Linked DNA regions of Homo sapiens: regions 2 and 3 are each linked to region 1. The links come from fine-mapping of genetic effects on gene expression. A gene starts in region 1. Each other region holds a variant in brackets. All regions are shown on one strand. Distances are between the middles of the regions.

What was found.
Region 2: its variant is fine-mapped to the expression of POLR2M in visceral fat (GTEx, PIP above 0.99). The same link has a PIP of 0.9 or more in subcutaneous fat.
Region 3: its variant is fine-mapped to the expression of POLR2M in skeletal muscle (GTEx, PIP 0.97).

The regions. Positions count from the first base shown.
Region 1 is chr15:57,702,174-57,712,184 of GRCh38, forward strand. POLR2M (RNA polymerase II subunit M) reads left to right here and starts at 4,541. Exons shown (of 4, transcript NM_015532.5): 1 at 4,541-4,782; 2 at 6,541-7,185; 3 at 9,811-10,011. The coding sequence starts at 4,670. GCOM1 (GCOM1, MYZAP-POLR2M combined locus) reads left to right here. Exons shown (of 17, transcript NR_104371.3): 14 at 3,761-4,199; 15 at 6,541-7,185; 16 at 9,811-10,011. RefSeq lists an enhancer at 4,436-4,655 and a silencer at 4,976-5,025.
Region 2 is chr15:57,572,282-57,582,292 of GRCh38, forward strand. No RefSeq gene overlaps it. Among named protein-coding and RNA genes, the nearest start is that of GCOM1, 15 kb to the right of the region's middle. The variant G/A (reference allele first, on the strand shown) is at 3,724.
Region 3 is chr15:57,629,316-57,639,326 of GRCh38, forward strand. GCOM1 (GCOM1, MYZAP-POLR2M combined locus) reads left to right here. Exons shown (of 17, transcript NR_104371.3): 6 at 387-539; 7 at 3,119-3,244; 8 at 4,298-4,426; 9 at 8,380-8,459. MYZAP (myocardial zonula adherens protein) reads left to right here. Exons shown (of 13, transcript NM_001018100.5): 6 at 387-539; 7 at 3,119-3,244; 8 at 4,298-4,426; 9 at 8,380-8,459. Among named protein-coding and RNA genes, the nearest start is that of MYZAP, 42 kb to the left of the region's middle. The variant G/C (reference allele first, on the strand shown) is at 5,098.

The DNA.
Region 1 (10,011 bases):
ATATCCTGGTCTACAAAGCCCTGCTAGATCTAGCCCCAGCCTTCCACATTGCTTTTTTTTGTTATTTGAACATGCTAAGCTCCTTCTCCTTTTACGGCCTTAGTATCTTCTCTTGCCTCTACTTGGGATGTTTTTCCATCAGATTTTCCCACAGTTGATCATTTGTCATTTGAAGTCCCAGCTTAAAAGTTACCTCCTCAGAAAACCCAACCTCAGTCACCCAATCAAAGTAGTCTACCAGTCACTCCTTATCAAATCACTCTGTACTAATTCTCTATGTGACTCTTAGTACTGATAGAATAAAAGTTTCAATGTAACAGGAAATTTCTTTACCTCATTCATCGTTATATCACCAAATCCTAGAATAGCGTTTCACTTGTGATAGACGCTCAATAAATATTTACTTACTGAACAAATGAATGAGATCTCCAAAGAAGCAAGAACAGATGGGATCCATAGTATAGCTGAAGGGATTAACCTTGGATAAAGTTCCTGTGACTACTGCTGTTTAATAAACGACCCCAAATTTAGAAAAGGCATAGTGAAGATGTCTCTGCTCCACAATGTCTGAGGCTTCAATTTGGATGTCGTGAAGGCTGGAAGTGACTGGACAGTTGGGGCTGAAATTATCCAAAGTTTTGCTCACTCACATGTCTGGTGGTTGATGCTACCTGTTGGCTGAAACTTCAGCTTGGGATGATAGCCAAAACATCTACGCAAATGCAGACTTCTTCATGGCTTGCTTGCTGAGTTCCAAGAGTAAGCACTTCAAGAAAGCTAGGTAGAAGTTGCATCACCTTTTGTCATCTAGACTAGAAAAATCACTTTTGCTCTAGTTATAAGCACGCCCAGATTCAAGGATAGAGAAGAATAACCCCATTTCTTGACAGGAGGAGTGTTAAACTCACATAGCAAGAAGAACACATTTAGGATGGGAAATATTGTTGCTGCCATTCTGGTCAACTCCAACTATATCATGGCCAGTTTTGTGGCCATTCATGCCCCAACAATGACAATCAAAGCAAGAAAACAGAGGAGAACAGCCTGGAAATTCTAAACATTTATGTTTATCAGTTTTACAATTGATTGTCAGTTTTTATCTTCAACTAGGTAAGGACAAGTGGAAATCATTCCCAGGTCTTGTTTTTGTTCAGTGTCCTTGTGTAGCTTCGTGGCAGTGGGATGTCTATAGGTCATCTTGGCAGCACCTCACGTGACTAATGAAATTTTCCTTTCCCTTAATTCTGTTTTGAATTTTCCTTCCTTTCAAACGCAGCCAAATTTATTAGTTTACTCTGAGAGCAACATTCAGGAGATTAATCCAAGTACCACTGGAAAAGTGATTCATCTTTTTAATGAGCACTGAAAAACACAAACAAAAAAACCCCAAAACACTTGCCCAGATTCATTTTTATAACGGATGGGCTCTTTGACAGGCAACTGGAATTCTTTAGCAGAGATTAGCTGTCTGTGGTTTGTGGGCTCCATTTCCTTTCAAGTGTTTGGTTCAGCTGCAAACAGGTATAACCTGTAGCACTCATTGTTTCTCTCTTTAGTCTTCATTTCTCCATTGTTAAATTTCTCCATTTTATATCTTCTTCTCTAGACACTGCTGTGAAAATTTGTGTCCTAGATATTTATTTTTTGTTTCATAAATTATAAAAGAATACTTTGCCTATTTTCCTTTTGAAGTGTAAATAGGCTGCAAGTAGTCTGCTTCTGTTGTAGAGTGATGTTTTCCACTTGCCATGCTTCCTGGTTACTGACAAAATTAGACAGTTTGTGCTTGGATGCTGGTGGGAATTTAGATCTGTATTATGATATCTTGAAGCCCTAAGCCATACTGTATAAAAGATTCTATCCCAAACCACTGAAAAATCTACACAGTAATGATGATTAATTATATAAAAAGCTTAAGATTTGCATATAAGAAACATTTCATTAAGAGAAAGAGGAATATGGGGGAAAGGTAGAGAAAAAAATATGAGAGAAGGAGATTGTGTCAATTACTACATGCTATGTTCCTGAGAGGAGACAGAAAAAGTACAATTATAGCTCCCTCACAGAAAGGACTTTACAATTTTGTTAGGAAAGGAAAAAGAAATCTCGATGCATAACACAATTAGAGAAGTATAATATGCTTCATGCAGTGAGGTTCCAACTTTAACTAAGCCCTATAATTGTGCTGAAAAGAAAGAGAAGTTTGGTTTGGAATAACATGGGAAGGTTCAGGGAGGAGGTGAGACTTCAGCCAAGACTTACAATTGGCAAGGGGAGAAGAGATAGCCTTCCACAAAAGGGTAACAGAAGGGGGCAAAATTCTGAGGCCTAAAAGAAAGGCATCCTTGCCTTGGGGACACCTGTGGCCTACAATCAGCACATGGGGAGTTCACTACTGTGGGAGAAATAAAGGCCTCCAGCTGGGGTCCAGGGGTGGGGTGAGGGAGGCTTGCGGGGTGCTTATCACTGTAAACCAAAAATAAAATTTGAAGGTCCGCCCTCAACCGTCTGAATGGACTTCCTCCTGTAGTCCAGGGTCCTCCAAATTTAACCTAAAAGACTGGCTTAGGCCATGATGGGAAGCTGAGGTCAGACATGCCTCATTATGCCCTTCTTTCTTTTAGAATCCAGGAAAAGCTACACAGCATTTAATATCAACACATATACCTTGAGTCTGATAAGAAACACAACTTACTTTCTCTGAAGCCTGCTAACTGGAGGCTTCATCTGCATGATAAAATTTCGGTCTCCACAAGTTCTTATGCTAACCTAGACATTCCTTTAAATCAATTACCAATCAGAAAAAAACTTAAATTTACCTATAACTTGGGAGCCCATCTTGCCCCACACCCGCTCTGCTTTGAGTTGTCCCACCTTTGTGGATTAAGCCAATGTTTATCTTAAATGTATTTGATTGATGTCTCATGTCTCCCTAAAATGTATAAAACCAAGCTGTGCACCAACCACCTTAGGCACGTGTTCTCAGGATCTCCTGAGGGCTGTGTCACGGGCCATGGTCACTCATATTTGGCACAGAATACATCTCTTCAACATTTTACGGAGTCTTTTTTTTTTTTTTTTGTCAGTACCACAGACAACCACCTGACTCGAGGACCTTACCTATTTCTCATTCAGCCAATGCTGCAGCACGTTATTAACGTCCTTGAAAGCAAGTCTTATACAGAGAAAACTTATTTTGATATATTAATGAATCTGATCAGAATGGACCAGATTGGGGGGATAGATAAATGGTTGCAATTGTGCTCCCTGGAATAGCTTTGGAGTTTACCTAGATCTTCTGTCTCTTTAGGACAGAGCTGCTTGTGTTTATATAGCATCTTACACAGGATTGAGACAACTTCAATTTCCTATATCAAAAAATCGGGGGAGGGCGGTGGGTTATGGGGGTGTTCAAACCTCCCAAGTGACATCTGCTGTGACTGCATGTCTTCCTACTCTTTCCACTGGGATGCACCTCTGGTAGCTGAACTATAACGAGAAGGTAAAAGCTGTGTCCAATACCTATTAAGCTGCCTTCTTCTCAACAGCTGGGGAGGTGGCGGGGGTGGGGGGGGGCGGAGGGAAGTCTTTTCAACAGTTTTACACATTTGGAAATAGGCCTAAAGTGAAGAAGGGGATTTTCAAATTGGTGTGTTGGAAAAGGGGCTGGGCTTTTGAGTTTGAAATCTGGTGCTGTCACTTACTGGTTTTGTGCCCTGGGAATATTTATTTCAGTTTTCATGCCTCTGTTTTTCTATAGGCAAAGTAGAAAATTCGAAAAGGTCCTCAACGAGTTTGTACAGCTGCTCCCACTCCCTCATCACCTCTTGTGGGCCTTTGGAAATGTATGTTGGAGGAGACATTTTGGATTGTTGCAATGACTTGGGAGTGCCATAGCACCTAGCAGGCAGAAGCCAGAAACACCAAATGTCTTAACAATGCTTGAGGCGGTGCTACAAATGAAGTCCTTCTCCAAATGCATTGAGCCCCAAGAAAAATCGCTGATTCTGAGGAACCTTCCAACTTTAACAATTTCAGGACGTCCCTAAGCTGAGCTAGGAGGCACCACGCACAGGCCGGAGGCACCACGCACAGGCCAGAGTCTCCCAAATCCTGTCCCGCACTCTCTCCCACCTTATTAATGGCCAGCTCATCTTTCAAGTTTCGACTTGAACCACTTCTCAGAGATATCTTCCCAGGTGCCCATCCCAACGTTACTATTATATCATAATTTGATTCTCCCTCCCCCCATCCCCCCGCCAACTCTGTAAACCCCAAGTATAACACAGGACGTTGCTATTTGTTGACTGACACATAGTGCTTGGTGAGGTCACGCTGGCGCTGAATACTTTTTGTATAAACCGACGAACAGCTGATGACCGCATGAATGCTCACACAAGGGGAAAGGGCGCCAAGCCAAGGAGCCGGCGTCATCCGACGTAACTTCCGCCCTTTAACGCTCCTGCGGACGCCCCCTTCTCCCAGTCCGTGTTTGTTTCCGGAATTTCAATAAAGCTCGATTCGGCTCGAAGAAGACCCCGTTCTTCCGGGAAAATGGCGACTCCCGCTCGTGCCCCGGAGTCACCGCCGTCCGCGGATCCGGCGCTAGTAGCGGGGCCTGCCGAGGAAGCCGAGTGCCCGCCGCCGCGCCAGCCTCAGCCCGCGCAGAATGTGCTCGCTGCCCCGCGGCTTCGAGCCCCAAGCTCCCGAGGACTTGGCGCAGCGGAGTTTGGTGGAGCTGCGGGAAATGTTGAAGCGCCAGGAGAGACTTTTGCGCAACGAGTAAGCTGGGGTCCCGCGGAGTCTCCGCCAGGCTCCTTCAGCTCGAGCTCCCTGGGCGCTCCCCTCCCCTCCCGCACTCTGTTCCCTTCCCTGGAAGGTGACTTTGACTCAGTCACATTCGCTTCAGTCCTACGGGCGAGTGGACGGAGGGCTTGCTGCGGCAGAGCCGTGCCTCTTCCTGGCCAGGCACGTATGCCTGCGAGGATAGCTCGGATTGAACGGCTACCTGGCGTTGCAGGGAGTTAGTAGCCCCTGGTCGGTTTTATTTACCCGGGGACTGTGGTGGTTCCATGAGTCTGCTTTCTAAACCCTTTTGTCGCCCGCACCCCTAACCCATAACAGATTGTCAGCTTCATCTCTGGATTCTAAGCTTACAGGAACCGTAGGAAATGGGAAGAGTGGGATATGAAGAGGGGTTTATTAGGCCGGGAAAGTTCGACCCTCATTCAGCTGGCTGGTTGAACGGATTTTAGCAAGGGAGCCACGTAATAAAAGTGATTTTGTTTTTTAGGCAGCTTTGTTCAGCAGCTTGTTGCAAAAGATGGTTTGAAGGAATAAAAAGCAGAAGACAGTAGAAGGATATTTTCAGAGAGACTTCCCACGAGACACTTGTAAGAAAGTGAGCTAGGAAGGGATTGGGAGAACTTTTAAGCATGGACTAATTTAAATGCAGTTGACAGAGATGGCTGAAGTTTCCAATCTATATGGAAGACCACTAGCAAAAATAGGAAAATTCAGGGAGAGGAATAGATCCAAGGTTGATTTTACTTAGGGTGTGCAGAGTTGAGAGGAGAGCAGGACAGACATTTGGTTAATCGAAAACCAAACACTTAAAAGCTGGAGAAGTAGTCATGAGGCTCAAGAAAGAGAGAACCCTGGAAAAATACAGAAAACAGGAATTTCAGCTGTAGAGTGTTGTTAATAGTTGAAATTGTGGGGATGAATGTAGTGTCAAAAAGAACAGAGGACTTAAGGTGTAATTTTTTCTTTCCATTTATTGTATAGTTAAAGAAAAGGGAATCAGAAAAGGAACTCTGTCATCCAGCAAAAGGGACAAATAAATAATTGGTTGGGATCAAGACATGTGTTTTGACCTTGTGAGAATAGGTTTTGAATGTATAGCAGTGAATTAACTTTTTGGTCTCAGGACTCCGTTATACTTTAAGAATTATTGACATCCCAAAGAGCTATTTTATGTGTTGTATCTAGCGAAATGTATTTACTTATCAGAAATACGTCTGAAGTCTTTAAAACATAAGCATACACAAGCACACATTCTATTCTAGAACAATGATGTCATCACATGCCATGTAGCCTCTGGAAAACTCCACTGTACCCATGCGAGAAAATGAGAGGGAAATAATATCTTAGTATTATTATGAAAGTAGTTTTGACCTAATAGGCCCATCCCCACACTCCACCCCATCCCCAAATTTTGGAGATTGCACTTTAATGACTGCTGGTTCTTGGAATGTCTTATGTGATTATTATATGCTTAAAATACTTTTGCTGAAATTCTAATTTGCTGAGACAAATGAGGCATATATTCCCTATTCTTCCTGCATTCCCTTGTTTTTTGGGCTATTTGGATAATGACCATTTTAATTGTTTTATTCTTGTTTTGGGGCAGTTAGAAATCAGATATTTGACTTAAAAATCAGCTTTTCTTTCTTTGAAGATAATGCCTTGCCTTTTTAATGTTATATCTCAAGTTAAAAAAATGGCTGTAATGTAATAGTATTCTTTTCCATTTGACAGAAAATTCATTTGCAAATTGCCCGACAAAGGTAAAAAGATCTTTGACTCTTTTGCCAAACTGAAAGCTGCCATTGCAGAATGTGAAGAAGTTAGAAGAAAAAGTGAACTGTTTAACCCTGTTAGTTTAGACTGTAAGCTAAGGCAAAAAGCAATTGCAGAAGTTGATGTGGGTACAGATAAGGCCCAGAATTCTGACCCGATACTTGATACTTCATCACTAGTTCCTGGATGTTCCTCTGTAGATAACATCAAGTCATCTCAAACCTCACAAAACCAGGGACTTGGACGTCCTACTCTTGAAGGTGATGAAGAGACTTCAGAGGTTGAGTACACAGTGAATAAGGGCCCAGCTTCCAGCAATAGAGACAGGGTACCACCTTCATCTGAAGCTAGTGAGCATCACCCGCGGCATCGTGTTTCAAGTCAAGCGGAAGATACTTCCAGCAGCTTTGACAACCTGTTTATTGACAGGTTACAGAGGATCACCATTGCGGACCAAGGTGAACAACAGTCAGAAGAAAACGCAAGTACTAAGAACTTGACAGGCCTTTCCAGTGGGACTGAGAAGAAACCTCATTACATGGAAGTGCTAGAAATGCGAGCCAAAAACCCAGTGCCCCAGCTGCGTAAATTTAAAACCAATGTGTAAGTACCCTCGGAAACAGGCCTGTAACAGGAACGTGATATTTGTTAAACTCAAAAATTTACGAGAAACTGGGTGTGGTGGTGCTTGCCTGTAGTCCCAGGCTACTCAGGAGGCTGAGGTGGGAAGACAGCTTTGAGTCCAGGAGTTGTAGACCAGCTTGGGCAATATAATAAGACCTTTTCTCTTAAATAAGTCAGGAGAATGCTCTAAGTTCCGTGGGCTTTGTATGAGAACTACTTGTAGTTAGGAAATAACATGTTGTGGCAACACTGAGACCAGCCTGGCCGGAGTAGAAGATTCATGTTGAAAAATATTTAGTTTTGAAACCAAATAATCGACAAGGTCTTTTAAAGCACATGGGGGAGTGTTAAATTTTAGGATGCTTAGCCAGTATTTCATAATAAACACAGAGTTGGAGAGAATTTATTATGACTTCTTTTTTTCAGAACCATTTTTTAGTGTACAGCTTTGATTAGTGTACTATCAAAGTGTACTCTCTTTGATTAGTCTGTGAACTAAGGGTAAAGCAATTGCAGGAGCTGATGGGCTTTCCAGCAGAAATTATTTGCATGCTCACTGTATGTAAGCAAGCAGCAGGTGTTGTGGGGACACAATTAAGTCAAGATTCTTAAAACTCCTTTGCCTTTTTTGATGTTAAATCTCAAGTTTAAAAACATGGCTGTAATGTATACATGTGTAATGTAATACAATACCATGTTCTTCAAGGAGTTTAAGAGCTACATGAGGACCCAAGGTTTACACACTTGGAAAAGAGTTAAGCTACATAATAATAACAGTTTCAGGGGGAAGGAAGCTGAGAAGAGGTTTGAAAAACTGTGAAAATAGATTCAGGCAGGATAGGCAAAAACTCTGCTTATCAGTTCCTTGCCATAAATTTGTTTCTGAAATTTCAGGAAAAGTAAAATCTTTTTGAAAATAATTGCTATTTACTTGCAGCAAATGTAACATTCAACTCAGGTAACTGGTACCTTCTTCCTATATTGTATTTACAAGTATGTAACATCAAAGTTAAATCACTACTACCTTTCTTTGAAAAACAGAAAACCTCTAGTGAAAAGTATCTAAAACATGCTTCTTTTTTGTTAGACTTTAATTCTACCCCAGCATTCATTTTAACCTCAAAACATTTTATTTCTGCTGTATAGAAAATCAGGATTATACTACATTAACGTGATCAAGTACTCTCTTGTGTACAGTGGGGTATCTTTCTTCACTTCCAGGATGACATTTTAGAAAACTAGAACCATCATCTAGTCAATAAATAAAACAAAGAATACATTAATCCCAGTTCTGTATTATGGTCATTTAGCTGGGAGTGGGAGAGAGGTAAGGGAATAGTGAAGAGGGCTACCAAGAATTCAGGAAGTTTAAGAGACAGGGAGCCTCCTGTATAAGTTAGAGGAGAACAGGAAAGGCAGGGCTTTGAGGAGTCCTTAGGCCATAGACAGGTAGGGATTGAGAGGGTTCCGTGTGAGAGGTGGCTTGGAGGTTGGAAGGTGGGGTCAGGTAGTGTCCTTTGGGTCCTTTCTGCTCTTCCTTCTGCATACTCTTCTGGCTTCATGTATCACCTGGATGCTGGAGGCTGACCCCTGTGCACCTCTATCCCAGATCTTCCCAGAACTTTAGGTTTGCATAGCCAATTAACCATGAAACTTGATCACTTGGGTGTTCCCAGGTACCTCAGCTTAATGATGTACAAAGTGGAACTGCAGTTTCTTTCCAAGGTGATTTCCATATTCCCTAATAGTGCCACCACCTTCTCGGTTTTCTTCCCCTAAGGTATCTTCGATTTTTCTCATCTCCATATCTGCTAGCCATGAAGACCTACTTATTTCTTTGATCTTCATCTCTATAATTGTTCTTCATCTTCTGTCGAAGTGAAGACTCTCATCTCTCTCGGGCTGTAATTGTGGCCCCTTCTACCTCTAGTCTTAACTACCAGTCTATCTCCACTGCTGCCAGAGTGAAATTTGTAAGATGGAAATCCGAACTTGTTACGGAGAACTCTTCATTGCAGTCTGGGCCTAGGCTACTTCCCAGCCCTCTTTCTCGCTGTCTTTTCTGTGTAGCCAGAAAAGCTGAGTCTGTCTACCTTCTGTACTTTCTCTCACTCCCCTTGCTGGGATGCACTTCTCTCCTTATTTACATGGGTAAGCAGTTATTATTCCAAGACTGTTCAAAGCTTTTTTGAAACTTTTCTTAGCCTCCCTGTCTCCCACTAGAACTGGCCATTTCCTTATGTTCCAATGTATCTTGTTGAGATATCTATCACAGTATCTCTGGTATTGTATTGCACTGAAACTTTACATGTGTATTTCTTTCTACTGGGCAATAAGCCCTTTTGCAAATGTTCTTTGAATAAATGAAAAAAAAAAAAAAAACTCCAGATGAAATACAAGGTTTGAATAAGGAAGGAAAAGGCAAAGAGCCTGTATGCACACAAACACACCCCTATTTGTTAGAGCAATGAATACTGGTAAATTACTTACTGTTACCTTTGGAGGAGAATTAATTGCTAAGGTAAAGGCCATTTGTGTGAATGTTTTAAATGTGTCTACAAATAAAATAATCTGATTGTATAACACAAGTTTTCCTTTCATCAGGTTACCTTTTCGACAAAATGATTCATCTAGTCATTGCCAGAAGAGTGGGTCTCCTATTTCCTCAGAAGAGCGGCGGCGCAGGGATAAGCAGCATCTTGATGACATCACAGCAGCTCGGCTTCTACCACTTCACCATATGCCCACGCAGCTGCTCTCCATAGAAGAATCCTTGGCACTTCAGAAACAGCAGAAACAGAATTA
Region 2 (10,011 bases), 130 kb before region 1:
TGTGTAATTGAAATATATGATGATAAATACCAGAAGAAATAGCTTAAAGAGTTAAAAGTGGCTGTGACTACGCAATGGGGATCAAGGGGCAAGAGGGTGCTAATTTTCATTATAAACTTGTAGAACCACTGGACTTTTAAAACCATGTGTGTGTATAATTTTGTCTTCTTTTCATTAAATGTTGCAAAATCAGCATTTGAACCCAATTCTGGTCTGAATCCAAACCTTATTCTATTATCTCAATTTTGCCTCTCAAAATAATTGCTTAACATTTATTTGCCTTTAGATTTTAATTTTTTTGAGTCAATTTCTGATGTGTGCTGTTGACTCAATAATCTACAAACTCCACATGTGTATGGTCCGTGCTTATTTTGCTGACCATTGGATTCCCAGTGTCCAGTGGAGCATCTGGAAACAGTTAGGCTCTCAAAAAACATTTGTTTGTCATTAGGTCCATTTTCTGAGTCTCTAAATTTCAATTCTTGAATATCCACATCCCTCTTAAAGACTGTTTCTGGGCCAGGTGTGGCGGCTCACACCTGTAACCCCAGCACTTTGGGAGGCCAAGGGAGGCAGATCGCTTGAGCTCAGGAGTTTGAGACCAGCCTGGGCAACATGGTGAAACCCCATCTCTTCAAAGCATACAAAAATTAGTCAGGTGTGGTGATGTGTGCCTGTAGTCCCAGCTACTTGGGAGTCTGAGGCAGAAGGATCATCTGAGCCTGAGGTGGTTGAGGCTGCAGTGAGCCGTGATTGAGCCACTGCACTCCTGCCTGGGCGACAGAGTGAGACCCCATCTCAAAACAAACAAACAAAAACACAACAAAAAAAGACTGTTTCTGTGCTGCACTCAGATGTGAACACCGTAATAGATGCATATGCAGAAGTGAATTGCAGTTGTATGATCCCCTTAGAGCATTCAGGATCTGAATGATGGGAGCTCGCTGCTTAAGACCTTTTGATTTCCCTGAAAAAGATGCCATTCCGGGGCTGTTTTGTCTGCACCATGCAGGCTGCAATTCCCTTGCTGGCTGGCTCCTCTTGGTGAGGTTCTCCTGCAGGCAGTCTGGTCTAGAATTGAATTACACTAGATGTTATCTTATACTTTAACTAAGTGGCTGAAGCGTCCTTTCTTTGCTTCCTCCTTCACTCCTTTTCTCCTTTCATCTTGTCCTTCCTTCAGTCAACACATTTGAGCACCTACTACTTCGTAGGCACAGGGAAGGAGATGTGTGGGGAGAAACCTGAGAAAATAAAAGGTGATTAATATTGTCCTTACCCACAACTAAGTGAGGAAGCTGGCTATCCAATCAGCTTTCCAATGAAAGCGAGGACAGAAGGAAGTAGGAGCTTAACGGTGAAGCCTGGGATGCAGTAACAGGGGTGGGAATGCAGAAGGAGCATGTGTTCCAACTGGGGATCAGAGAAGACTTGATGGGCAGCTTGGGACTCACAGGAAGAGAGCCAGGGCTCTGAATGTGGAGTAGACAGGACAGAGGCCCACAGAGGCCTTAGGTCCTCCATGGCAGGACCCCAGTAAACTTGTAATACGACTGAACAAAATCCTCAGAAATGCTGATGGGATGTGGGGACAAACTGGGGTGGCCCTACTGCCATCTAGAAGAGGAAGCAGAAATAAGGCCGCAGGCTTCTGCTCAACTGGAGCCCACTCCTGGGCCTCTGAGTGAGGCCCAGCTGTTAGGGTCAATTGGCTGCAATCATCCAAAACTCACTGAGATGACCTCAAGTGGCAGAAAGAACTTGTTCTATGGTTGGAGGGATGTCTCACAGAGCCCACGAACAGGGAATTTGAATCAGGGATGGGGACATTGCAGGAACCCTGCAAGTTCTTTCTCCCCATTGCTTCCTCTGCTTCCCCTGCCTGTGTCAGGTTCTTCCTCTGAATCCCAGTCTGCATGGTAGAAAATAGCCTCTGAGTTTGTACGTGGATAGAGCAGCTAGACAGGGACTTGGGGAAGGGATAAGATATACCTAGTTTGAGTGCCAAGTTCTGGAAGGTCGGAGGGGAGGCCCCAGTGGGAAACACATGCTTCTTATGGAGCCAGAATTCATCTAATTGAGTTGGAGTTTGCGAAACCCCTTCTCTGCAAAAAAATACAAAAGTTAGCTAGGTGTGATGCTATATGCCTGTAGTCCCAGCTACTTGGGAGGCTGAGGCAAGAGAATCCCCTGAGCCCAGGGAGGTTGAGGCTGCAGTGAGTCGTGATTGAGCCACTGAACTCCATCCTGGGCAACAGAGCGAGTAGCCCTGAAGTCTGTCATCTTGGCCCTGATGTCTTCTTTGAGCGAGTTTATCTTGTGCTATGATGTTCCCGTGAACTCCAGGCCACATCAATAGGCCCCTCCACCTTGGGTGGGGGGCTGGCCTGGGTAAGCTTTAAGGATATCTTCAGAGAAGTCATTTACTTGTGTTGGAACAAAAATAGTTCTTGCATAGCAGCAGGGACAGAACTGACTTGGAGGTCGGAACAGGGTCCCAGTTCCCCCTTGGGGGTCCCAATTCCAGTTCCTCTTCTTATTAGCTTTGTAACCACTACCACCCTGCAGCTATTGAGTGCTCACATTGTAGCCAGTACACATTGAAATGACCTGAGTGTAAAATACACGATGAATTTTGAAGATTTAGTACAAGAAAATGTAAAATATCTCATTACTATTTTACTAGTAACATAATATTAATGTTAAATGATAATATTTCAATATATTGGGTTAAATAAAATATATGAGTAAAATCAAGTTTACCTGTTTCCTTTTATTGTCAATAAATATGGCTATTAGAAAGATTAAAATTACAAAAATGGCTCACGTTCTTTTGGTTTTCCCCTCTAGACTCTAAACCTAACAGATTGCCTTTATTGAAAAGAACAAAATCACACAGTCTTGGCACAACTTTAGAAATTTGGGGAAAGATGCGTATGAAATCTCAATATCTTAGCCTCTGTTTAATGTTAATTACCACATTGTCCTTCAGGGATGCAAATCCTGGCCCAACCTATAGCTGCCCCTCCCTCTGCTCTGCCTGCTGGCAAGACGGCCCAGGCCATGGGGGACAAGATGAGGACAATGATTCCTGACACAAGGCTCTATGCACCCTTTGGGCCTGGTGATGTTCTCATGGGGACCTGCAGGCCATTCCGCTACTCTGAAAAGCTTGACGGAAAGAAAATGTACAGCTTCCCAAGCACTGCTGCCTTGGCTGATGGGATCATTGCTTCTTGGCTTGGGGCCAACAGCAATCCAGCCAGGCAAGGTTGGTGGTCTCAGCTCGTTAGAAGCTCTAATTGGCAATTGTTAATCTCCTTGATTAATAGAAATGTTGAAAACAAATTAATTACTCATTAAAATGTAATTGGATAGACAAAAACTTTCCAAATGTGCTATTCATAGCGAGTGTGACTGAAAGATGTCCTTGGCAATGGAGAGTTTGGGAACCACTGACAGAAGCAATTGTATTCGTCAGGGTCCTGGTTCTTGCATGTTCCGTCTCCACATTTGGTTGGTAGGTGATGGAGTTCCCCTTCACTTTCCTCCAGGGATGTGTCCTCGACATGTCCATCCCCTTGAAATTCATAGAATTTTGAGATTTGGAAGACTTCCATCATGTCGCCACTGGGGATGATGAGCAACCTGTCATGGCTGTCACAGCCCTGTGACCAAACCCCTCGCCCTTTGTTCAGCCCCACTTCCTCCTCAGCTTGGAAG[G/A]CACCATGCTTCAAACTATCCCATCTCTGAGAACTCACAGTCAGAGCGGCAACCACTAATTCCTCAGGTTATGTGCAGCTCTGCAAGCCATTGCTCCACTCTCAGAACCAGTTCTTTACCCTTCCTGAGACTACAGGTGCCTGGGCCCCTCCTGGTGCATTAACATATCACCCTCCACTCAAGCCGCTGGCTCCAGCTCCCACGCTCAGGGAGGCAACATTGACTTTATGAGAGCATCTACCTTATTGGAAGGATGTGATAGAATATATATGTATATATGTACATAGACATGTGTAACATAAAATGAGAGAATGTGGACAAAGCTTTCTATAGTGTCTGGTCTGTAGATGCTCTCAGCAACTGTTAACTCTTGTTGCTTATTACTGACTTGTTCTTTTCATGTGCTGTTTTCCCCTCAACCATTGAGACTGCTCAGAGAAAGTAAGAAAATCAGACTGATTGGCTCCGCTACAAAGTCATGATACTTACTCCCCTGCCGGACTCCCCATGGTCTGGCAATCACTGTGTGTGTGTGTGTGTGTGTGTGTGTGTAAAAGTTTTATCCACAAATATGTGTATCGCTATAATTCACGTACCATACAATTCACCCATTTAAAGTGTACAAACCAATGGTTTTTAGAATATTTACAGAATTGTGCAACCATTACCACAATCAATTTTAGAACATATTCATGATTCTAAAAAGAAATTCCATACTCTTTAGGAGTCCTTCCAGACCTGGGCAATCACTAATATACTTTTTTTTTCCTCTTTGGATGTGCCTATTACAGACATTTCATACAAACGAAACCATGCAAGATATAGTCTTTGTGACTGGCTTTTCTTCAGTTAGCATAATGTTTTCAAGGTTCACCCATCTTGTAGAATGTATCAGTACTCAATTCCCTTTCATGACTAAATAACATGCTGTTTGTGAACATACTACATACTGCTTCTTCATTTATAAGTTGATGGGCATTTGGGTTGTTTGCTCTTTTTGACCGTTGTGAATAATGCTGCTATGAGAATTTGTGTACAAATTTCTGAGTGGACTTATATATATATATCTTTGGTATGTATCTTTTGGATATATACTTGACAGTAAAATTGTTGGACCTATGTTAAGTCTATATGTAACCATCTGAGGAACTGCTAGACTGTTTTCCAAAGTGATCAGTCAGTTTTCCATTCCCACCAGCGCAAATGAGGGTTCTGATTTCTCCATATCTCACCAACACTTGTTATTATCTTTCTAATTATAGCCACTCATGTATGTGAAGTAGTGTCTTATTGTAATTTTGATTTGCATATCCCTGATGGCTAATAATGTTGATCGGCTTGGCAATCATTTTATTCATCATTTTCTTATTATCTCTTGGATTCCTATTGTGATTATTACAAACCTTTTCCAGACTCCAGAAGGTCCCAATCCCTCCTATCCTCTTATCTCCAGAAATTACATCTCCCCTGCTATTCTGAAACATCTTCATGAATTCATTGATTATTCAACAAATATTTATGGAGTCTTTATGGCACATTTTCATGCCTGGGTTATAAACTGGATAGGTCATGTTCTTTACCGTCACCCCTCATTCGTTCATAGTTGGTGGTGCCACTTACAGTCTTGTCTTATTGGACTTTTCTGCTTAAAATGTTTCAGTGGCTTCCTAGCGCTTTCAGGATAAAATGTAATGGCAAAATTCATGGCAACCATAAGAACTATGAGTGTGGGGCTAGCCCAACCCCGTCCATGCCATCCTGTCTGTCTCACATTCTCTACTACCCTCTTAGGTCCACAAACACATAATTCTTTCATGCAACCCTGCCTTTCTTCCCCACTGCCCCGCTCCCACCTGCAAGCTTCTCCAGGGCAATGGTGAGTCTTATGCATCCTTGTATTTCCTACAACCCTGGGACAATACTGGGCACATTGAAAGTACTCAATAACTGGATGTCCATTGAGTTAGTAAACGAAGAGATGGCCAAGTAAATAAATGAAGGAAGGAAGGAAGGAAGCTATGCAATTCTGCAAAGTAGTGCAATTTATTTCCCTGACTCCTTCTCCTGTTCCTCTTCCTGAAATAGAATAATCAGATCTTCCCTAATAGGCCAGCGAGAAAGGCTACAACTTTTTAGTTGGCTGAAGTTAGGGTCTATTCTGACCCTCATTTCAAACTGTCCAAACAGAATGATATGCCGAGCCAGCTGAACCGAGGAGGTTTCATCTTAGCCAGGTATTTATGACAAATGCTACTACTCTAAGTAAAGTTTTAACGCAAGACATGTGTGTATCTATTTGTACTCTGTAGGATCTTAAGCAAAATATCATAACATTTAATATAAAATGCCCACAATCTGAATATAATCATGTTAAACAGTAAGATTGTGGAGGCTTCATTGAAATTTGCGAGGAAGGCTGGAGAGTTAGAAGTGTCTAGTCACAGGGTGCCTTCCCCTTTCACCCTCATGTAGGCAGGACAAAGGTCTCTCTCCACTCCAGATGGGAAAATGTTTCTCTTCTGGATAGTTTTGTTGAGGAAGGGAATGGAGGAAGTGGAAGTGGGCTTGCAGTGGGGTATCCGGCCCCATAGGAGACAGGATACAGGCGGTCAGGCTCTCTAGCCCCCTCAAATGCAGGCTGCTTTCTGTTTTCAGAAGTATATGTGGTGGCCCATATGATAAAACAGTGATAAATGCATTGTCCTGAAATCTAAACGGGAGAGGGAGGAAACGCCTGGCATTTATGATATGTCTGTCTGCTTATTCACTGAGAACATTGTTTGGGGAGGATAATAAACACCATGGAGTGAGTGTTTTCAGAGATCTTTGTGAAGATAATGTCTGATGAAGGGCTAAGACACGATGCTCTGAAACAGGACACAAGCTCAAGGCTGGGGTTGAGCCTGCCCTCAGGTCTTCCCCTCAACTTCCCTCCCTCCCATGTCAGGACCTTCCCAGCTGTCCATAGTCAGGGGATCACACCCCCAGCCTACACTCCCTGGGGGATTGGCCTCATTTCTTCCCCCCTGCCCCTACACTGTTAAGGGCCCATGGCTCCCCCAGGATGCCCACTCATGGTCACAGCTGCCCACGGCTTCTTCCTCCCTGACTCCTCCTCCCCTTCCAGATCTTCCCTAATAAGCCAGTGAGAAAAGGCTACAGGAGACAGCCTCTCTGCTCCTCTTCTTAATTAAGTACTTACCATGTGCCAGATGTCTAACTTATATCATTCATTTAATTCTAACCACCTTAAAAGACAGTGAAAATGACAATTTCCCCTATCTTACAGATGGAGAAACTGAGGCTCAGGGAAGGAAATTGAGTACTCTCATAATGAGTAGCCGTGGGATTTGAACCCATAGTCTGATGCAGAGACCTCATCGATTCAGTATATTCTATTTCCTTCTTGCTACTTTTCAGATGTAGAAGTCTGGTGCAACAGAGATGCATAAGGCAGTCTTATCCTTGAGGACTTCTTGGTTACACAAAAAGTAGTGAAATGCTGGGAGAGGCACAACAGCAGTGATGGGAGGGGAAGGCGTCTGGGCATGGCGGAGGGAGGAGATGAGCAAAGACTCTGCAGTGGATGCTGCGACGTGCCACCCACATCCTCCTCACCCAGCTGCAGGGAGTGATGGAGGATGCCGATGGCCCACAGGAATTGCCCTCGACTGGAGTAAGCTGCCTCCCCAATCTTAGGTCCCTTCCTCAGGGCAAGCCTGAATCCAGGGACTGGTTAACAGGTAGGTACAAAGGCTCAGCTCCCTTCTCCACACTGAGGACAAATCTGAAGAGCCATCCTGCTCCAGAGCTCCCTATGGAACTGGCTGAGGCCTCTGGTGTGGCTGCATCACAGTTCAGCTCCTCCCTCTACCAGTCCTGCCATCCTCACTCCAGGACAGGGAGTCTCCTAAGAGTACTCCCCAAAAACCCTACTGCACACAAGTCCCCACCTCAGAGTCTGTGTTCCAGGGAACACAAGCAAAGACAGGCATGGAGACACATAGCACATTCTGGAAAGTCGAAATCGTCCCAGTTACTAGAGTGTAGGATGTAGGTTGGGTGCAGGTGGCTTCTCCTGTCTTTCGATCTAAACATCCAAGAGGGGAGCTGTATCTAGTTTTCTTGGGAACCTAACCTGCAACTCTGCCCAGTGGCAGAGGCTTGACCTATAATAAGAGTAAACTGCTTAAGATTTGGAGGAAATAACAGTCAATAACTTGAATAAAGAACAACAAAGAAATGTTTGGGAATCACATTGTTTAACAATGCTTTGGGAATGTCAAAGCTAAAAGGTAGCTTTGGAGAGCATCTGCTCCAAAGCTCTCAGTTATTATGGGGGAGTGTAAAGCCCCAGAGGGGTGATAACTTCAGGTCAACACAGATATGCCAGAGCCCAGGCTCCCTGGCCTGCATTTGATGCTCTTTCCACCACGCTGTATGTCATACAGGCCGAGAACTGTAAACCTAAGCCCTCGATGGTCTTATCCACCTTTGTTCTCCTGCAGTGGCTTGTCCCTAGGAACACAAATCTGCTCTTGAAGGAGGCTGCCACTCAGCTTCCCAGAAATGCTCCAACAACTCTTCTCAAGGCCAAGCACCCAGTGAGCTTGCGTTGCCAGCACCAGGCATGTCAAGGTTCAGTGTTGTTCCAGAACCCTCTGTGTGTCCTCTCTCTTCCCACCAGATCAGATCCAGCTGCTTCCCTCCAATCGAGATGAAGATAAATGCGGAAGCCACAGAAGTCACTCTCAGGGCAGCTCACCCTCTTTCTGCACCCGTTCAGAGTTAATGCGGCCATAGGCTGGGGAAAATTGCTTCTCCTAATCCCACTCCTGGGTTAGTTGGGCCCCTCCTTTCTCTGAATAGAGGGTCACCAGGTAAGCCGATGTCCATTTGAGACATTTGGTATGACAAATGACAGTCCTTAGCCTCAGTACTTTAATCTCTGATAAATGGCTGACTCCAGACCCATCCCTCCGATGGAGGCTGCACCGCCCCCCTTTGGCCATGAGGTCTAAAATGGAGACTTTGTCCTTCCATCTGGCTCTCTAGCCTGACAATGATTAACCCAGCTAATCAGTCTCCGTATGAACGAACTTTTCTTTCCAGATAAGGCATATTCCTGAAAGGCTGCTTTAAGCAGTATCTGTCCCCACCTGGGCTTGCATTTTGCTGGCCTCCTATGGGCTCTATTAGGGCAGATATTCCATGGGGTTGGGAGGGCCCTGTGGTCAGTTAAGTTGGAAAAACCCTGAATAGTTATTCTTCTTTTGAAGACGCTCCATGCACACTAGGGCAGTGTGTACTGTCTTAAACCTGCCTGCTTTTGTTTAACCTAGATTTTACCAATTTTATTTGACTACAGATTTAAAAAAAAATAAATGGAATGTCTTTTAACCTCCTTGAAGGGACTTAACCTCACCTCTTTTTAAGTCCAGTTTCTCTTCTCTGTCCTGGTCCTCATACCTGGGCTTTCTGTCTGGGCCACTCTTCTGGAGTCACTGTTCCGCATGTGTCCCCAGCATCCCTTCTTCATATCAGGGTCTGGTCTTGCTTTTGTATCTTTGCTGGCTGCTCTGATCTGGGGTGACCAACCATTCTGGTTTGCCTGGGACCAATGGGGCTTCCTTAGATAGAGGACTCAGTGCTAAAACCGAAAATCCAGGCAAACTGGACCGTGTTGGTCATCCTATCCTGAACCTTTTGCTCTGTGCCTGAAGTCCCGCAGCTCCCTGGTAGCCCACCCTGGTGTCTCTTCTGGCTCTGTTGCAGGTCTCAGCCCACCTATCAGAATTTGCAGCTGTTTAATCTTAAACTCCCTGTTCCTGATTGATGGTTGGGACTGTGACTGGGAGTTGCTTAAATAGCTCCCTCCCGTTTCTCAGCTAAACTCAATTTCACCATCAGCCCCCGCAGCTGGGGTAGATCTTGAAGTTCCCTTCCTGCCCCTCTGAGCAGACCCTGGTCCTGTCCCATCTGCTCTGATGGGAGTAATCATAACACCAGGGTATCTTCCCTGCCTGACAGGGACAATGGGAGCTGAGTGGCTATCAGAAGAGGTCACGGTGAAGTGATGCTGACTGAGAGGGTGCTGATGGGGTGTTTTTGTGGGAAGGCAGAGACAGAGCATGTATCCAGGAGACAGAAGCACTCAGCATCCCAGTCCCTCCTTCCACTCCTGCTCTGAGGTTGCAGTGAAGCAGGGTTTGGGGATTGGCACCCAGCATGATGACTGTGTGTCTCTGGATGTACATGTGTCTGCTCTGATTAATGAGTAGCCTCTGA
Region 3 (10,011 bases), 73 kb before region 1:
TATTTTTCAAAATGGGATTATACTATACTTACTATTTTCAAAAGCTGTTTTTTTTCCCATGTGAAATGATGTATTATAATACTTTTCCTTGGAAGGACTCCATTTTAATCCATTTCCATCCATCCTAAGCAGTGGCAAGTGGTGTTGGCAGCAGCTATGGGATGGTATGGGAGAGGTTTTCAGTCCCTCCAAGCTACAGGGGCAGACCTCTTGGCCACCATGGGAGACCCACAGTCCCTCACAGCACAGGGTCCCAGACTGGCAGTTGCTGTAGCCTAGGACAGCTACCCCAGTGCTTAATGATAAGGGGATGCCCCAGCATGTGGTGCAGCCCATGTGTTTTCACGCCACCGGATCTGGTTTTGTTTTTATTTTCATCCTCACAGAAAACCCTCGTGGATGTGACTTTGGAAAACAGCAACATTAAGGATCAAATCAGAAATCTGCAGCAGACGTATGAAGCATCCATGGACAAGCTGAGGGAAAAGCAGAGGCAGTTGGAGGTAGCGCAAGTTGAAAACCAGCTGCTAAAAATGAAGGTGGAGTATAAAAGCCTAGATTTATTTTCTATGAACTTTTCTCCTCTTTACTTCTCCCTTTTCTCTTCCCATCTTCAACCTTTCCATTTCCTTTTCTCCATTCTCTTCTTCATTGGATTTTTTTTTTTTTTTGAGACAGAGTCTCACTCTGTCACCCAGGCTGGAGTGCAGTGGTACAATCATGGCTCACTGCAACCTCCGCCTCCTGGGTTCAAGCAATTCTCGTGCCTCAGCCTCCTGAGTAGCTGGAATTACAGGCACGTGCCACCTTGCCCAGTAATTTTTGTATTTTTAGTAGAGAAGGGGTTTCACCATGTTGGCCAGGCTGGTCTCGAACTCCTGACCTCAGGTGATCCGCCTGCCTTGGCCTCCCAAAGTGCTGGGATGACAGGCGTGAGCCACCGTGCTTGGCCCAGTTTGGGGCTTCTCCATAAATGCCCCCATTGGGCATGCCTTTCTTGGCCTCCAGTCCCTTCAAGGGCTCTTTAGACACTCACCATGGTGCTGTTGTTATGTAACTGAGAAGACGCTTGGGATGCCCACAGATCTGGGACGTCAGAAGCCTTGGAGATCTCTTCCTTCACTGTTTAGATTTTCTTTGAGGTCCCAAGGCCTTTCTGTTTGGCTTGACAATAAAGAGCTGAGGGGCACACAAATAGCTGGTACTTGGGCTGTACCCCAAGTACAATATTCTCAAGAAGAAAATTGGTGGGTGACTAGGGACACTGGGGAATGTCCCATTTGGCCCCCTAGGCTGGGAGCATTCCTTAGCTGAACTTCTAATGCCCTAGAGGCATTAGTGCCCCTCCCAAATTTAAACTGTGGATAGACTTCCTACCCGGTGACAGGAGCAGATCCATGAATGGCTCCTGGAGGGCACTTAATAAATTATATCTTGGATGAATTCCTTTTTATGTAAGTCTGTGGTTTGAAAATTTTGCTCAGCACAGACTTAGGCTATCTTATGAGTAGCGTATCCACATAGTTTATTGCTCAAAGCAGAATATGTGAGGGAGTGAAAGGTGGTACTATTGGTAATTTAGTTAGGGAGACAAACTGGGAAGTGTGGGCCCCTTCACAGGGGTAGGCTGGGTGGGGAAGAGGGGCTGCCGGTCCACCGCCCGGTCTCTGTATTGCCGCCCTGGGGATCTGCTGCCAGTTCACTTGGCCTGCCACAGCCATGGGACAGATCATCTCCTCTGTATGTTCACTTCTAATAGGGCAGCTCTTCTTTTCCGTGTAAGAGTTACTTTCTCAGTAAGAGTTACTTGGGGGGTGAAAAAAGTTTATGTTGCTAAAAAAGCCTGAAATTACTGATTTAAGTAATTTTTTTCAGCTTAGGGGATTTATTCAATCATTCAGTCCACAAATATTTATTGAGTGTCTACTCTATGTGTGTGTCCTGTTCAGTCCTGTTGGTTCCAGAGGTGGCCTGTCACCAGGCATCTGGGGACATCATTAGGCTGCTTGGCAATCTGGCTGCTTCCCTGGAGTCCAGGCCTTTAACTCCAGCCCACAGTTGCCTGTTTTAGAGACTGATGCTTGTTTTCATCCTGACAGTGGAGTTAAAAAGGTTTCTCCTACTCCTCCTATTTTACTCCCCAAATTGGGAAAAAAAAAAAAAGCTTCAGGAACTCAGGGTATGTTACATGACCTGGATGCAGAGTGAATGGGCCTCCAGGGACAGAGCCCTTCCAGCAAGCTGTGCGTGCACTGCAAATGGAGCACACAGCACACAGGGTCTCTCTCAGCTGGTCATAAGCTCTGCTCAGGACTTTCCACTTTGGAACTTCTTGGTGCCAACACTTACCCAGTGATGAGAAGGGAGAAGTCAAGGGCGTCAAGAGAGACTTGTCACATCTTGGAAATAACATCATGTAACCTATTGAGTTTGAAGAATGCTTCCCTTTTCCAGAGTTTAGGTATGCAGCAAACTCAGCTCTCTGCAATAGGCGATAACCTGGAAGGAGGGGATGAGAGCAAACCTTCTGCAGCATAAAATCAATGGCGGGAAGTCTGTGTGTGAGAACGTGGCCTGGCAAACAGGAGGCACCAGCCACCACCAACCTAAGCCCTGCCCACCTGCAACTCCACTGACTTTTTCTCACCTCCTAAGCCAGGCCTGCTTCAGTACTAGGGGTGCCAGCTTAGTGTTCCCCATGCTAGGTTGGAATGTTTCCAAAAGCAACATTTAGGAAAGCACAAGGGTATGGAAAGGGTGAGTCCAGATTTCTCCTTTGAGCTTAGCTGGTCTTACCTAGAAACTGGCTTGGCCAATGCAACTGATGAGATTGCGTAGAGAAATAAGTTTCTACCTTTTGAAAAAGTCACTCATGTGGAGCATACCTTTGTCCTGAGAATGCCCCCAAAATTCGTGTGAAATGCCACTTTTATTTTTCTGTGGCTCTGCTCACCCCTCTTCCTCCCTTTCCCTGTTAGGTCTTGCTGTGTCTCTCTGCTGCAGAACCCAGTGGATGGGCTCACTACCTCTGTGAGTCCCCACATGAAATGTGCAGTGGAAGCTGCCAATTCCTCTGGGCCCTGCAAAAGCTGTCGTTCTGAAATGAGTCTCGTTGTAGGTGGAATCGTCCCAAGAAGCCAATGCTGAGGTGATGCGAGAGATGACCAAGAAGCTGTACAGCCAGTATGAGGAGAAGCTGCAGGAAGAACAGAGGAAGCACAGTGCTGAGAAGGAGGCTCTTTTGGTGTGTGTGTTGTAGCTGCCGATGTAAACTTACCGGGAATTGTTGGTTCATTATTGTTGGTGATGTATACGTAGTAGTGTTTATTCTTAGAGGTGGGTCAGTAGACTCAGCCATGGGTAAGGGATCAAGGAATTATTCATCTGCTCATTCACTCCCCTCCCCTCTTCCCCTCTGCCTTTATTCATCCCCGTCTCTACTCAGAATAGCCCCTTGTCTCTGTCTCTAAATACACACCTTTTTCTAGCTCATCTGACAATTTGCCAGCATCTAAGCAAACCCTGGGCTTGCCCGCAGCTGTGCCCTCCCTCCCTCCATTTGGTTCTCTCTACCTGAAATTTCCTCCTTCCCTATCTTTGATCTTGCCTAAGCTCCCTAAAAGCCTTAAATGCCACTCTCTCCATGCCTGGAGTCTCTTCCAGTCATGGAGCCAGAACCATTATCTGTCCTTAGGAAGCTCACTCACTCTCTCTCTGCTTTTACTTTGGAATTCTTTTATACCTGCCATTAGAGTGGGGCTGTGCGTCTCACATCTTGGCTTTTCCAGGAGATTATAAGTTCCTGAAGGCGGGGACTCCATGTCTGGCTCATCTGTGTCCGTAGAGGCTTAATACATGTTCTGATGATTGACTGGGTTTTCTTGTTAGTAATGAGCTGATGTATTGCATTATGGGAGAAGGATCTGGGAATTCTGCATTCAATTCCAGATCTGGTTCTAATTCCCTTACACTTCTGGCAAATACAGTGACATTCTGAGCATCTACTCAATGTTATTAAACATTTGTAGGCCTCTTTTACACCTTTTGGATATAAAGACTTAAGGGAAAAAAGGGAAAAAAATGTAGTGAGGCCCATTAACCAGCCACATGATGTATCTTTATTCATAGGTGAGAACCAGAACCGTGAGGTTGAGTTCATGATCTGTGAGACACTTTCAGGTTCCAAGGTCATGTTTTAAAGAGAAATCGTGATCTAGCAAGGCCTGAGCTGATTGGATCCCGGTGAGTAGCCTCGGTACTCCATGCCTGTACTTAGGAGGGTATATTTCTTTTGCAGGAAGAAACCAATAGTTTTCTGAAAGCGATTGAAGAAGCCAATAAAAAGATGCAAGCAGCAGAGATCAGCCTAGAGGAGAAAGACCAGAGGATCGGGGAGCTGGACAGGCTGATTGAGCGCATGGAAAAGGTAGGACACAGCGTTGGGCCTATTGCCCACTTGCCCAAACTTTTCCCTGTAGGTCCATCTGAGATACGAGAGGCCCTGGATATGGATTCCTCTCACCTCCAAAATTTGCAATTAAAAAAAAAAAGACAAAGCTATAAAATAAAGTATAAGGAAGTCCAACAACGTTCTCATTTTTCCCATGATAACTATTTTGATGCTTTTAAAAAATATTACTTGTGAAATTCTTTAGAAAAATTAATATTTTAGCAGCCTTGCTTTGCTGGTGCCCCAGGTGTGAACTTAGTTTATCCATTGAATTATCAAGCCCTATTTAGGTGTTACATCAACACAGCAGCCCTGTTGTTTCTGGGGCATGTGTCTCAAGGGTTGGCTTTTCCTTGACACGCTGGGGACTTGAGAGAGTAGGGAGGCCCCATTTCTCTAGGTGTTGTAAGCAGGCTGGTGAGTGTGGTGGGGGAACCTGAGGAAGGCGGGAGCTCAGCTGGGATAATGAAGCCTGTCTAGTGAAAGGGAAGAGGCCAGGAATTAAGTAGGAAGTGGAGGAAGGGGAGGAAGTGGTGGGAGAAAGGAAAGAGGAAAAGAAGGAAGAGAAGGAAGAGAAAGGATGGGTGACCTTTAGCAGGTGACGGCTGACTTCTGGACCCAGGAGTTCAGGGCCAAGTCTGTGGCTG[G/C]TTTCTGGGAATGGCTCCCTGGCTGCATATGAGTTTGCAGAGAGCAGTGACCTGCCAAGACCCTGACATTATTAGCACCCTGTGACTCATTCGGGATGCCAAGAATCTCCAATCTGATGATGGAGGCAGAGGTGGGGCAGCAAGAGCAAGGTCACTGTCAGGCTTCATGTGATGCTGAGAAGAGGTCGCCTTAGCTAATGGTGTTTGCAGCATAAGCCCCTGTACTGTCCCCTCATAAGGCGAGGTGTCGCCACTATGGGAACTGCATGAAATTCAGTTCTGTGGAGCTTCAGAGCTCACTGGGTGCTTCGTTTTAGCTCTTTAGCTTTTTACTTGGGAGAGACTTGGGCAAACTAAAGAGTCAATTACAATCTCCCTTCTACCCCCTGGGAAAACAGAATCCCATCTTTTATTGAAGAGTAGGTGATTGGCTTAGTCAGGACTAACATTAGTATTGACCAGAGGGGGTGGTGGTGAAGATTGGGCAACAAGGGAGCTTTCTAGAGCTTGAGTGAGCTTCCTCCCACATTATTGTCCTCCTACAACAGCAGAAGATCCCAGTTAACTCAGATGCTCTCTCTCTGGGCAGCAGGTTTTTCTGCAGCGTAAAGAAGCAAGGTGAGCCGGCAGCATAGCAGGGTGGTCTGGGGGAGATGCCGTCATACAGAGAAACCACAGGTAGTGGTCATGAACATAGGCTTTAGAATCAGACAGTCTGGGGATTTGAATCTTGTGTCTCTTTGTAGTTGTTTGCACTTACTTGGTTTTTCCTAACTCAGTCTCCACTTCTGTAAAATGCTGATAATGGTACTTCTTATTCTTAGGGCTTTTGTGAGCAATAAATGAGAAAAATCCACGCCAAGTGCTAAGCATGGTTCCTCGTATATAGTAAGGGTTCGATCATTTGTGGCTATGATTTTTACTCTGTTACGAGGTTGCCTAAATGTCTACCCTCAGAGTCAGGTTGTCTTTAGCACGACCCATTTTATGCTTATCTTCATTGCTGTCTTGAGGTTCTGAAAGTTTCTTGTCTTTCCCCACTGATTTTCACATGGAGCCCTCATGTGGGATGAATGGGTAGAGCCAGGAAGCTGGTAAGGCCAGCCCTCCCTGCCAGCATTTAGGAAACACAAAACCTTCCCCAAGTGGTGTTGGCTTCTTCTTTAGTGATTGGAAATGTATTGTCCTTTCTCTAAATCTTCCTTTCCATTTAGGCTAGAGAAATGCTCTATTTATTGAACTAACATTAGGTAGGCCAATTTACACTGTTTCCTTTTCAGGGATAAATCTGTGAGAGCAGGAATCTGGCCAAATCGCTGTCTCACACTACGTGAACGGCATGTCCTAGGCAGGGCTGTGGCAGTGTACGTATCCTGCTCTCAGTTTTGGATTTTGCTCAAGGACAAACCATGTGCTTTTGAATGGCTTCTCTGCCATATGCCTTAGTTTACTGTTTCTCTTGCTGAGCACTGTATTTCAAACACCTTTTTTTCTGATCAGTAAAAATCTTTTAAGGAGTGTTCTCTACCAGGGACCCTTCTGGGGAACAGATAATAGTCTATGCCATAATCTGGGCAGTGGTTTCACAGGTGTTTACAAATGTAAGAAATAATTGTGCAGTGTACACTTAAGATTTATTGTACCTCAATTTAAAACAAATTTTAAAAGTGTGCTGTAAGTTAGACCTTGCTCTACTTTATGACAGCCTTTTTCTTTCTTGTTTTTTGTTTTTTTTTTCTTTTTGGAGGGAGGCATTCACTTGTGAAAGCTTTTATCACTGTTATTTCGGGGCTAATGTAAAACTTCCAACCACATAGGGGCAGGAGGAATGTTCTGCTCAGGCCAGGCCATAAGAATGTGCATTTGCTGTAGAGATTTAAAAACAGTAACAAAACCCCAGTCAAAGTTGATCTACCTTTGTTATTTTAAATATTTCAGAGATAATATATTCTTCCTGCTTAAGGTGGACTGCTTCCCCACCCCTTTGGCCTACCTCTTGGTATACCACTGCTTATAGCTTCAGAAGTTGTGGCAGTTAAATTTTCAAAGATTTGCTTTTAATAATTTGGTAGAAAAGAGGTTTGGAATCTATGTAGCTAGTAAGAGTTTGCTGGGTGGAATTTCCGAACATAAAGATGAGGAACATTAGTTCTTAGAGAAGGACCTAAAGTAAAATAATCTCCCAATTAGTGAGCGTTATTTGATAAACTTGCATTTTAAGGAAATTTGTTACACTAACATCTGTAATGTATTTTTAGCACAATTTCGGTTATGACAGGCACCATGTTTTTATGAACATTTTTCAGCTTTGTCCAAAGAAATGATTCCAGACTCTTTTTTGGGCAAACTTCTAAATATACATATATATAGCAAAGTGTACAAAGTGCACGGCTTAGTGCGCGTATGTTTCCTATTGCTACCATAGCAAATTTCCACAAGGTTAGTGGCTTAAAACAACACAAATGTATTATGTTCCATTCCTAGAGGTCAGAAGTGCTAAAATCCAGGTGTTGGCAGAGCTGGATTCCTTTTGGAAGCTCTAGAAGGGAATGCATTTCCCTGCCTTCTCTAACTTCTGGAGGCCACCTGTACTCCTCAACTTGTGGCCCCCTCCTGCAGCTTCAGAGGCAGTAGCAGAGCATCTTCCAGGCTCCTTCTCTCTGATTCTAACCCTGCTGCCTCCTCCTCCTTAGAAGGGCCCAACTGGATAACCCAGGATCTCCCCATTTTAAGATCTTTAACTTAATCACATCTGCAGAATTCCTTTCTCCATGTAAGATAACACATAGGATTCAGGAATCAGGACATGGACATCTTTGGAGGGCCATGAATCTGACCACAACATATTTTTACAAGTGAATACACCTGTGTAAACACCACAAGTTAGAATATAGGATATTGCCAGAATCCCAGAGCCTCTTTTCTTGATGATTCAGAAAATAATAAAGAATTTTGCAGTATCACAAGCCACCAGTTTAAAGTATTGATAATCAGTATTTGGGGCTATAAATTTTCACTGATCCTGGGCTGATGGAATACTTTGGAAAATGAATCTTGAATGGTTTTATTTAGGATGTTTTGTCTCTGACCCATAAATATATCTATAAATACACAACAACAGACTTGGCAGTTTTGAGCCTTGTTTGGGCTTTGCTGAGCAGGTGTGTAAAACCCAGGGGGTGTCATATAGACTTGGACTCCCTAGTGCTAGAATTGCTAAATAGACATTCTCTGTCAAACTTGGGATCCATTGATTAAAATATCAGTTTCTGTTTGTTTTAGGAACGTCATCAACTGCAACTTCAACTCCTAGAACATGAAACAGAAATGTCTGGGGAGTTAACTGATTCTGACAAGGAAAGGTAAGACGTAATGCCTTTCGTCTTGTAATGGATTTAGGTTGTGGACACGCTGTGTTTTTATGACCTCATTTGACCCTTACATTTTCATTTGTGTGGTTGTACCTTATTACAGACTTAAGCATACATAACATTGGGCTGAGAGTTTCCAATATGGAACAAGTTTCTTTGGAAGCCTCCAGCCACATCCTGCAGATCATGGCTGGTTGTTAGTGTAGTGGAACACATCAAATACTTTCACAAGTGCAAAAGTTTGGTCTATTAATGTTCTCCATGGCCTTGAACTCCACAGGATACACCTTGTTGATGAGAAAACTCATCAGCTGTGACTAATACCACTTGCTTTGGAAACCAATTTAAAACATCTTTCTTTGTTTCCAAACTTTGCTTAGTAAAACCTTGCATTATCCTCTGGCAGTGAGTATATAAAGCCCTACATGAAAAACACGGAATAGTACGCTGTCTGTTCTAGAAATCAAAATGCAGAGAGGCCATTCAGGGGTCTCTAGTGAAGGAAAACAAGGTTGAGATGATTTGAGTGTTTTGGGCAAGTGACTTAACCTCCCTGAGTCTTGCTTGTGCCACATGGAAATTCATCTTTAAACGGGGGAGACGGGTATGACGGTGATAACAGTGCCCATCTCACTAGGTTACTGTTGTTAAGAGAACTATTGGGCTTGCTGCCTGCCAAATAGTACGTGCTGAAAAAATACCCATTTTTCCTTCCTCATTTGCAATTTCAGAGTTTTCAAAGTTACAGGAGGCTTGCTAGTCATTAACATAGTGCTGAGGCAGAGATGGGGCACGGGAACTAGACCACCAGACCTTTCCTCCAGTGCCCAGCCCCAGCGGCCCCAGAGAACTGAAGAGTCCAAGCAATGTTGGAGAATAAATTGTGCTGTTGTAAAACAAAAGTATGAAATGTTTTGTGATGTGGCTTGCTCTGTTTGGATGTAGAGAAGGTCTTTCAACTTGTCCCACATTTGCCAAAAATAAAGGATATGTAGAGCAACTGTGATTCCAGACCTTTTGGTATTCTGCCGTTGATTTCAGATATTTTATTGTGTTGCTGGACCCCTTCTTCCCCGTCCTCCCCTCCAAGTAATTTACTGGATGTTCCAATATGTTAATAACCCCAAAACAGAGAGCTTCTCAGATCTGTAAATGGTGCAAAAAAATTATCTCTCAGCCCCTGGAAAATAATCATCCTTATATGGGATAAAACTTGCAAATGGGAACTTGAAAAATAGTCCTGTGCTCCTCTGTTGTGGTAGTTTGTTAGTAATCACACTACTTTGTGTGGTCATCACATAAAGTAAGAAGAATGGATCTTAGAGTTTGATTTCTTGTTCTTGGAAGCATTTTTAAATGTTTTTAAATTTACGTTTATTTTTTTACCAAACCTTCCCCAAAAGATACATGTTTTCTATTTTTATTTATTTATTTTTTTTTTTTGTGGAGATGAGGGTCTCAGCATATTGCCCAGGCTGGTCTCAAACTCCTGGCCTCAAGCAGTCCTCCTGCCTTGGCCTCTTGAAGTGTTGGGATTACAGGC